Homo sapiens: one gene and its partner. Changing the gene in region 1 together with any one later gene gives a genetic interaction. Each region holds a gene or a part of one and is shown on either strand. Other genes may lie near its edges. The genes, in order: EZH1 and KEAP1.

Region 1 (3,815 bases):
AGACTGAGATCAGAATACAAAAGTTCCAAACTATTAAATTTTTTCATCTACATAAGGTGTCCCTTTGCAGAAACAGCTTCTTTGTCTTAGGGGCAAATTCAGTGTCTTTGATAGTTTCTCTTGAATAATAATTTTATTAACCAGCAAGGCTAAGTAAGCCTTTGGAGGCAGATGGCACTACAGATTTTTATTTTTTAATTTTATTTATTTGTATTTATTATTTGTATTTATTATTATTTTTTGAGACGGAATCTCGCTCTGCTGGGATTACAGACGTGAGCCACCGTGCCCAGTCTATTTTTTTTATTTTTTTTTGAGATGGAGTCTCACTCTGTTGCCAGGCTGGAGTGCGTTGGTGCAATAACAGCTCACTGCAACCTCTGCCCCAGCTAATTTTTGTATTTTTAGTAGAGACAGGGTTTCACCATCTTGGCCAGGCTGGTCTGGAACTCCTAACCTCAGGTAATTCACCCACCTTGGCCTCCCAAAGTGCTGGGATTACAGGCGTAAGCCACCGGGCCTGGCCTAGATTTTTTTTTTTTTTTTTTTTTTGAGAAGGAGTCTCACTCTGTCACCCAGGCTGGAGTGCAGTGGTGCTATCTCAGCTCACTGCAATCTCCACCTCCTGGGTTCAAGCGATTCTCTTGCCTCCACCCCCCCTGAGTAGCTGGGACTATGCTCGCCACCAAGCCGGGTTAATTTCTGTATTTTTAGTAGAGGCGGGGTTTCACCATGTTGGCCAGGATGGTCTCCATCTCCTGACCTCGTGATCCACCTGCCTCGGCCTCCCAAAGTGCTGGGATTACAGGCGTGAGCTACCACGCCTGGCCCCTGGCCTATATTTTTAAATATTTCATCCTATTCCTTTTTTGATTCATAGTGTAATTGAAACCTGAATGATAGGGGTGAACCTATCCCTGCAAAGAGCTCTAGTAACACACCTTTGGGTCATTCTGGTGATCACCAATTTCATCAACATTTCAATTAAAATCAATTCTGTGACTAGGTACACAGCCTGATCTCTCAGTTAGGATCTATAAAGCACATCTCTAATTTATACCCTCCAACTTCTCTGAGGTATTTTCATCTGTCATTAGTTTGAGCTTCTGGGCACTACACACAGAAAGAACCTTCCTAACAGGAACCTGTGACTCTGAATTCTAATTTAAAATAAAATTATAACATTAGTATTTCCTAGTGTTGCTTAATTAAGAGAATCAGATCAGCTGGGTGCAGTAGCTCACACCTGTAATCCCAGCACTTTGGGAGGCCAAGGCGAGTGGATCACCTGAGGACAGGGGTTCGAGACCAGCCTAACATGCAGAAACCCCGTCTCTACTAAAAATACAAAATTAGCCGGGCATGGTGGTGGATGCCTGTAATCCCAGCTACTCGGGAGGCTGAAGCAGGAGAATCGCTTGAACCCAGGAGGCAGAGGTTGCAATGAGCTGAGATCGTGCCATTGCACTCCAGTCTGAGCAACAAGAGTGAAATTCTGTCTCAAAAAAAAAATTAGATCGTATGCACTGGAGGTAATGGTAACAAAAATCTAAACAGGATTAGTTTTTTTTTTTTTGAGACAGAGTCTCGCGCTGTCGCCCAGGCTGGAGTGCAGTGGCGCGATCTTGGCTCACTGCAAGCTCCATCCCCCAGGTTCACGCCATTCTCCTGCCTCAGCCTCCCGAGTACCTGGGATCACAGGTGCCCACCACCATGCCCAGCTAATTTTTTGTGTTTTCAGTAGAGACAGGGTTTCACCATAAACAGGATTAGTTTTTATGAGACCCAAAGGAAAATGCTGGCTCACAGGATTTATAACTCTGGTTTAATTTTATTTCATTTTATTTTGTTTTTTGAGAAAGGGTCCCACTCTGCCGACCAGGCATGATCATAGCTCACTGCACTTCGACCTCCCAGGCTCAAGGGATCCTTTGGCCCCAGCCTCCCTAGTAGCTGGGACTACGGGCACATGCCACCATGCCTGGCTAATTTTTTATATTTTCAGTGGAGACAAGATCTTTTTTTTTTTTTTTGAAACGGAGTCTTGCTCTGTTGCCAGGCTGGAGTGCAGTGGTGCAATCTCAGCTCACTGCAACCTCCGCCTCCCGGGTTCAAGCGATTCTCCTGCCTCAGCCTCCCGCGTAGCTGGGACTACAGGTGCAAGCCACCACGCCCAGCTAATTTTTGCATTTCAGTAGAGACAGGTTTCACCATGTTGGCCAGGATGATCTCGATCTCTTGACCTTGTGATCCACCCGCTTCGGCCTCCCAAAGTGCTGGGATTACAGGCGTGAGCCACTACGCCCAGCCTACAAGATCTTGCTATGTTTCCCAGGCTGGCCTTGAACTCCTGACTTGAAGTAATCCCCCTTCCTCAGCCTCCCAAAGGGTTGAGATTACAGACATGAGCCACCGTGCCCAGTGAGAACGCTGACTTGGAAGAGTAAAAGCAATCTCCTAACAGGCTAGAGCCCTATCTTGACTGGTTCTGTACTGTGTCAGCCCAAAGTTTAATACTGTACTGTATTTAGTGCCTGCTCATATCATCCAATAAAAATAAGACTTTTTAGTCTATTTTGAATCAAATTATTCGGGTAGGTGAGTTAGAGAATAAAACACACTAAAGGTACTGAATTCCAACTACCCATTAAGTAACTCATGACTTTAGGGTGTAGTGTACTCAAGTCTCAACTGATGATTGACTGATAGACTAAGGAGTAGGAAAGAATCCAATATGTACACAGTTTGGACATAAAACAAAACAAAGAAAAAGCTGGGGACTTTCCAGAATGGAGAAGCACAATTTTTCTTTTTTTAACCTTTAACCCTTCCCCTCAATCCCAACCTATCTAATTATCTTCACTTTTCTCCACAAATTGTTTTCTCTTTTCTCTTTAGTTTATTCTATGTAGAAATGGAATTAGTGTGTTTTTAGTGTTGCTACCTCAAATCTTTTCTGGGACGCTACTAGTGAACAAAATAGAAATAGTGAACAAAGTGGAAACTGTTTTTGAGACAGGGTCTCCCTTTGTCGCCCAGGCTAGAGTACAGTGGTGCCATCTCAGCTCACTGCAACCTCCGCCTTCCAGGTTCAAGGGATTCTCGTTCCTCAGCCTCCCAAGTAGCTGGGATGACAGGTGTGGGATGCCCACGCCCAGCTAATTGTAGAAACGGGGTTTCACCGTGTTGGACAGGCTGGTCCCAAACTCCTGGCTTCAAGTGATCAATCCCTCGGCCTGCTCCCAAAGTGCTGGGATTACAGCTGTGAGCCACAACGTGGGGGGCCCAAAGTGAAACTTTTTAAACTTAATCTAAGACCAGAAAAAGATATACTTAATGACATGAATTGTTACATGTTTCATATAAACAGCAAATCAAAGGGAAGGAACTGTTGCCTACAGAGTAATGAAGCCAGGTTTCAGACCCTAGGAATTAAAAATAGACAAAATTAATATTTTGAATCGGTTTCTTATTTTGTTTTGAGACAGGGTCTTGCTCTGTTGCCCAGGCTGGAATGCAGTGGCTTGATCTCGGCTCACTGCAACCTCTGCCTCCTGGGCTCAAGCAATCCTCCCTACTCAGCCTCCTGAGTAGTTGGGACTACAGGCCCACACCACCAGGCCTGGCTAATTTTTGTAATGTTTTTGTAGAGACAGAGTTTTGCCATGTTGCCCAGGCTGGTCTCACACTTCTGAACTCAAGTGATTCGCCCACCTCGGCCTCCCAAAATACTGGGATTACAGGCATGAGCCACAGTGTCCAGACTTAAATTGGTTGTTTGAAGGTATCATCCAAAGGCAAATATATAAGAAACA
Region 2 (3,815 bases), on another chromosome or scaffold:
CAACATGGTGAAACCCTGTCTCTACTAAAAATACAAAAATTAGCCAGCGTGGTGGTGCACCCCTGTAATCCCAGCTACTTCGGAGGCTGAGGCATGAGAATCGCTTGAACCCAGGACATGGAGGCTTGCAGTGAGCCGAAATCTTGCCACTGCACTTCAGCCTGGGCGATAGAGCCAGACTCAGTCTCAAAAACAAAAAAGGACTGGGCGGTGGGGGGCGGGCGTGGGCGCAGTGTCTCATGCCTGTAATCCCAGCACAGTTAGGGAGGCCAAGGCAGGCAGATCACCTGAGCTCAGGGGTTCGAGACCAGCCTGGCCAACATGGTGAAACCCCATCTGTACTAAAAATATTTTTTAAAAATTAGCTGGGCATAGTGGTAGGCACCTGTAATCCCAGCTACTTGGGAGGCTGAGGCAGGAGAATTGCTTGAACCCAGGAGATGGAGGTTGCAGTGAGCCGATACAGTGCCACTGCATGCCAGCCTGGGTGACAGAGTGAGACTCCGTCTCAAAAAAAAAAAAAAAAGTTGTCAGGCACTCGTCTATGTAATCAGTTTTAATCTAGTACCCCATGTTCATACAAACACAAGAAAGAAACACTGTATATGTTTCTCCTACTGTATAGACCACTTTCCTAGAAGCTGCAGGCCCTAGGACTAACGCCAGAGAACCCTGGGGCGTCTGATCAACCCCACATGTAACATAGAGGGTAGGAAAGAATCTATCCCTGAAGGAGAGAAATAGAGATCAGTGTAACATCCATCCCAGCTGGTACCAGCCAGTGGGGGACTTAGAAAATTTCCAGGAAGGAACACCAAGACATGGGACTCCCGAAGGCTTAGGGCCTGGGGCACTGCCCTGCTTGCCTAGGCTGAAGGGTAGTACTGCCTCATAGGACAGTTGGGAACAGTCAATGATGCAAAGGACATAAATCACTTAGAACAGGGGCTGGCCCACAGCAAGTGCTCAATAAACACTTCTTGGCCTGGTGTTGGTATGGTGCTTCATACCTGTAATCCCAACACTACGGGAGGCCAAAGCCAGAGGATTGTTCAAAGCCAGGAGGTTCGAGACCAGTCTCAGCAACATAGCAAGACCCTGTCTCTACAAAAAAATTTAAAAACTAAAAAATTAGCCATGCGTGGTGCTGCATACCTATAGTCCCAGCTACTCAGGAGGCTGAGATAGGAGGCCTCCTTGAGCCCAAGAGTTGGAGGCTACAGTGAGCTATGATGGCACCACTGTATTCCAGCCTGGGGACAGAGCAAGACCTCATCTCTTCAAAAACTTTTTCTTTTTTTTTTGAGACAGAGTTTCGCTCTTATTGCCCAGGCTGGAGTGCAATGGCGCAATCTCAGCTCACTGCAACCTCCGCCTCCCGGGTTCAAGCGATTCTCCTGCCTCAGCCTCCTGAGTAGCTGGGATTACAAGCATGAGCCACCATGCCAGGCTAATTTTGCATTTTTAATAGAGACGTGGTTTCTCCATGTTGGTCAGGCTGGTCTTGAACTCCCGACCGCAGGTGATCTGCCCACCTTGGCCTTCCAAAGTGCTGGGATTATAGGCATGAGCCACCGCGCCCAGGCTTTTTTTTTTTTTTTTTTGAGACAGAGTCTTGCTCTGTCGCCCAGGCTGGAGTGCAATGGTGCGATCTCGGCTCACTGCAACCTCCACCTCCCCGGTTCAAGCGATTCTCCTGTCTCAGCCTCTCGAGTAGCAGGGACTATAGTCACATGCCACTACACCCGGCTAGTTTTCTTTTTTTGTATTTTTATTAGAGATGGGGTTTCACCATATTGGTCAGGCTGGTCTCAAACTCCTGACCTCAGGTGAGCCACCCGCCTCAGCCTCCCAAAGTGCTGGGATTACAGGCGTGAGCCACTGGGCCCTGCCCTCTCTTGTCAATTTCTATAGATAATTTCCTTCACTGAGAAATGTGAAAACGAAACCAAAAACAGTATAAGGACATTGTGTGGACCAAAGAAAACATGACTAAGGTTCAGACTTACAGCTTGCAGCCTGTCACGGGTGTCCAATAAACATTTGCTGACTGCCCGAAAGGCTGGGCTACCCTAGGATTTGGCTGCTGTTCACTGCACTCTGCCCCACTTTGACCCCAGAGAAACCAGGGAGCCCAGAGACATATGAAGACCTCACCTTCCCCAGCTGTTCACCAGTCTCCCCACATGTGTAGACAAGGAACTCAGAACCCCAGTTGTTTTTTAATTTTTTTTTTTTTTGAAACTGAGTCTTGCTCTGTTGCGCAAGCTGGAGTGCAGTGGCTCGATCTCCACTCACTGCAACCTCCACCTCTTGGTTCAAGCGATTCTCCTGCCTCAGCCTCCTGAGCAGCTGGGACTACAGGCGCCCGCCACCAGGCCTGGCTAATTTTTATATTTTTAGTAGAGATGGGTTTTAGCTATGTGGGCCAGGCTGGTCTTGAACTCCTTACCTCAGGTGATCCACCTGCCTCGGCCTCCCAAAGTGTTGGGATTACAGGCATGAGCCACCACGCCCGGCCCCAGTTGTTTTTTGTTTGTGTGTTTGTTTGTTTAGAGACAGGGTGTCATTATGTTGCCTGGGCTGGTCTTGAACTCTTGGCCTGAAGCAATCCCCCCGCCTCAGCCCCTCAAACTGTGGAGACTACACCACCATACCCAGCCCAGAACCTCCTTTTTCTCCAGTTTCCTGCCTTGACATCTCAAGGGGAGACAGTGATGAGCACTCGTCCATCCCTGGTCCTTCTCCTGACACTGCCCCCAGCCCCACTTCCCCGCTCACCTCCCCAAAATGCATGTAGATGTACTCCCGGGCACGCTGGTGCAACTCCACACAGCCAATCTGCTCAGCGAAGTTGGCGATGCCGATGGCATTGCTGGGGTCCAGCTGCTGCACCAGGAAGTCACTGCAGGCACGGACAACGCTGTCGATCTGGTACATGACAGCACCGTTCATGACGTGGAGGACACACTTCTCGCCCATGGAGATGGAGGCCGTGTAGGCGAATTCAATGAGGCGCTCCATGACCTTGGGGTGGATACCCTCAATGGACACCACCTCCATGCCCTGCTCCCGCAGCCCGTTGGTGAACATGGCCTTGAAGACAGGGCTGGATGAGGCCAGCACCACCTTGTGGGCCATGAACTGGGCGGCCGGTGCATCCTGGTACTTGACCTGCAGTGTGACGTCACACAGCTGCTGGCTGAGCCGCAGCTCGTTCATGATGCCAAAGGCCTGCTTGGTATGATCCTCCAGGGTGTAGCTGAAGGTGCGGTTGCCATGCTGGGAGGGCGTCACCTCCGCCTTGCACTCAGTGGAGGCGTACATCACCGCGTCCCCTGCCCCCTCAGGGCACTGTGACTGCAGGGGCAGGAATCGGCAGCAGGCCCCAGCCCCGCTAGGCCTGGGATCTGGCTGCATGGGGTTCCAGAAGATAAGCAACACCACCACCTCTGGCACTCAGGGACCTGGAGGGGAGAGAGCACAGGGCAGAGGGCAGGGGTTGGGACTGGGCCAGCACCTGCCGGGCCTCGTTTTGCAAGATAAAGCAATTCCTAGGTCAGTTTTCCTGCAAAGTAGGTGAAGCAGAATCCATTTGCAAACTTGCAAACTTCCCCGACCTGATCAACCTGATTGGCCCAAGAGCCCATCTTAAAACATACATGAAGTCATGTCTCTCCCCTGCTCTGGATCCTCCAATGCCTCCCACAGTACCTAGTAAAACTGAACTCCTCAACAGCCTGCAAAGCCCTACGCAATTAGCCCCTGCCACCTCTTCCCTTTGATCACTCTGCTTCAGCAATCTGGCGGCCTTT

Evidence for each region.
Region 2: changes in EZH1 (region 1) and KEAP1 together harm fitness more than expected from each alone (negative genetic interaction), as found in Homo sapiens cells (one large-scale study listed by BioGRID).

The regions. Positions count from the first base shown.
Region 1 is NC_000017.11:42,738,226-42,742,040, forward strand, and holds part of EZH1 (histone-lysine N-methyltransferase EZH1), read right to left. Parts: intron 1-3,815.
Region 2 is NC_000019.10:10,496,614-10,500,428, forward strand, and holds part of KEAP1 (kelch-like ECH-associated protein 1), read right to left. Parts: intron 3,468-3,815; 5' UTR 3,421-3,467; coding exon 2,782-3,420; intron 1-2,781. UniProt on the Homo sapiens protein: Substrate-specific adapter of a BCR (BTB-CUL3-RBX1) E3 ubiquitin ligase complex that regulates the response to oxidative stress by targeting NFE2L2/NRF2 for ubiquitination.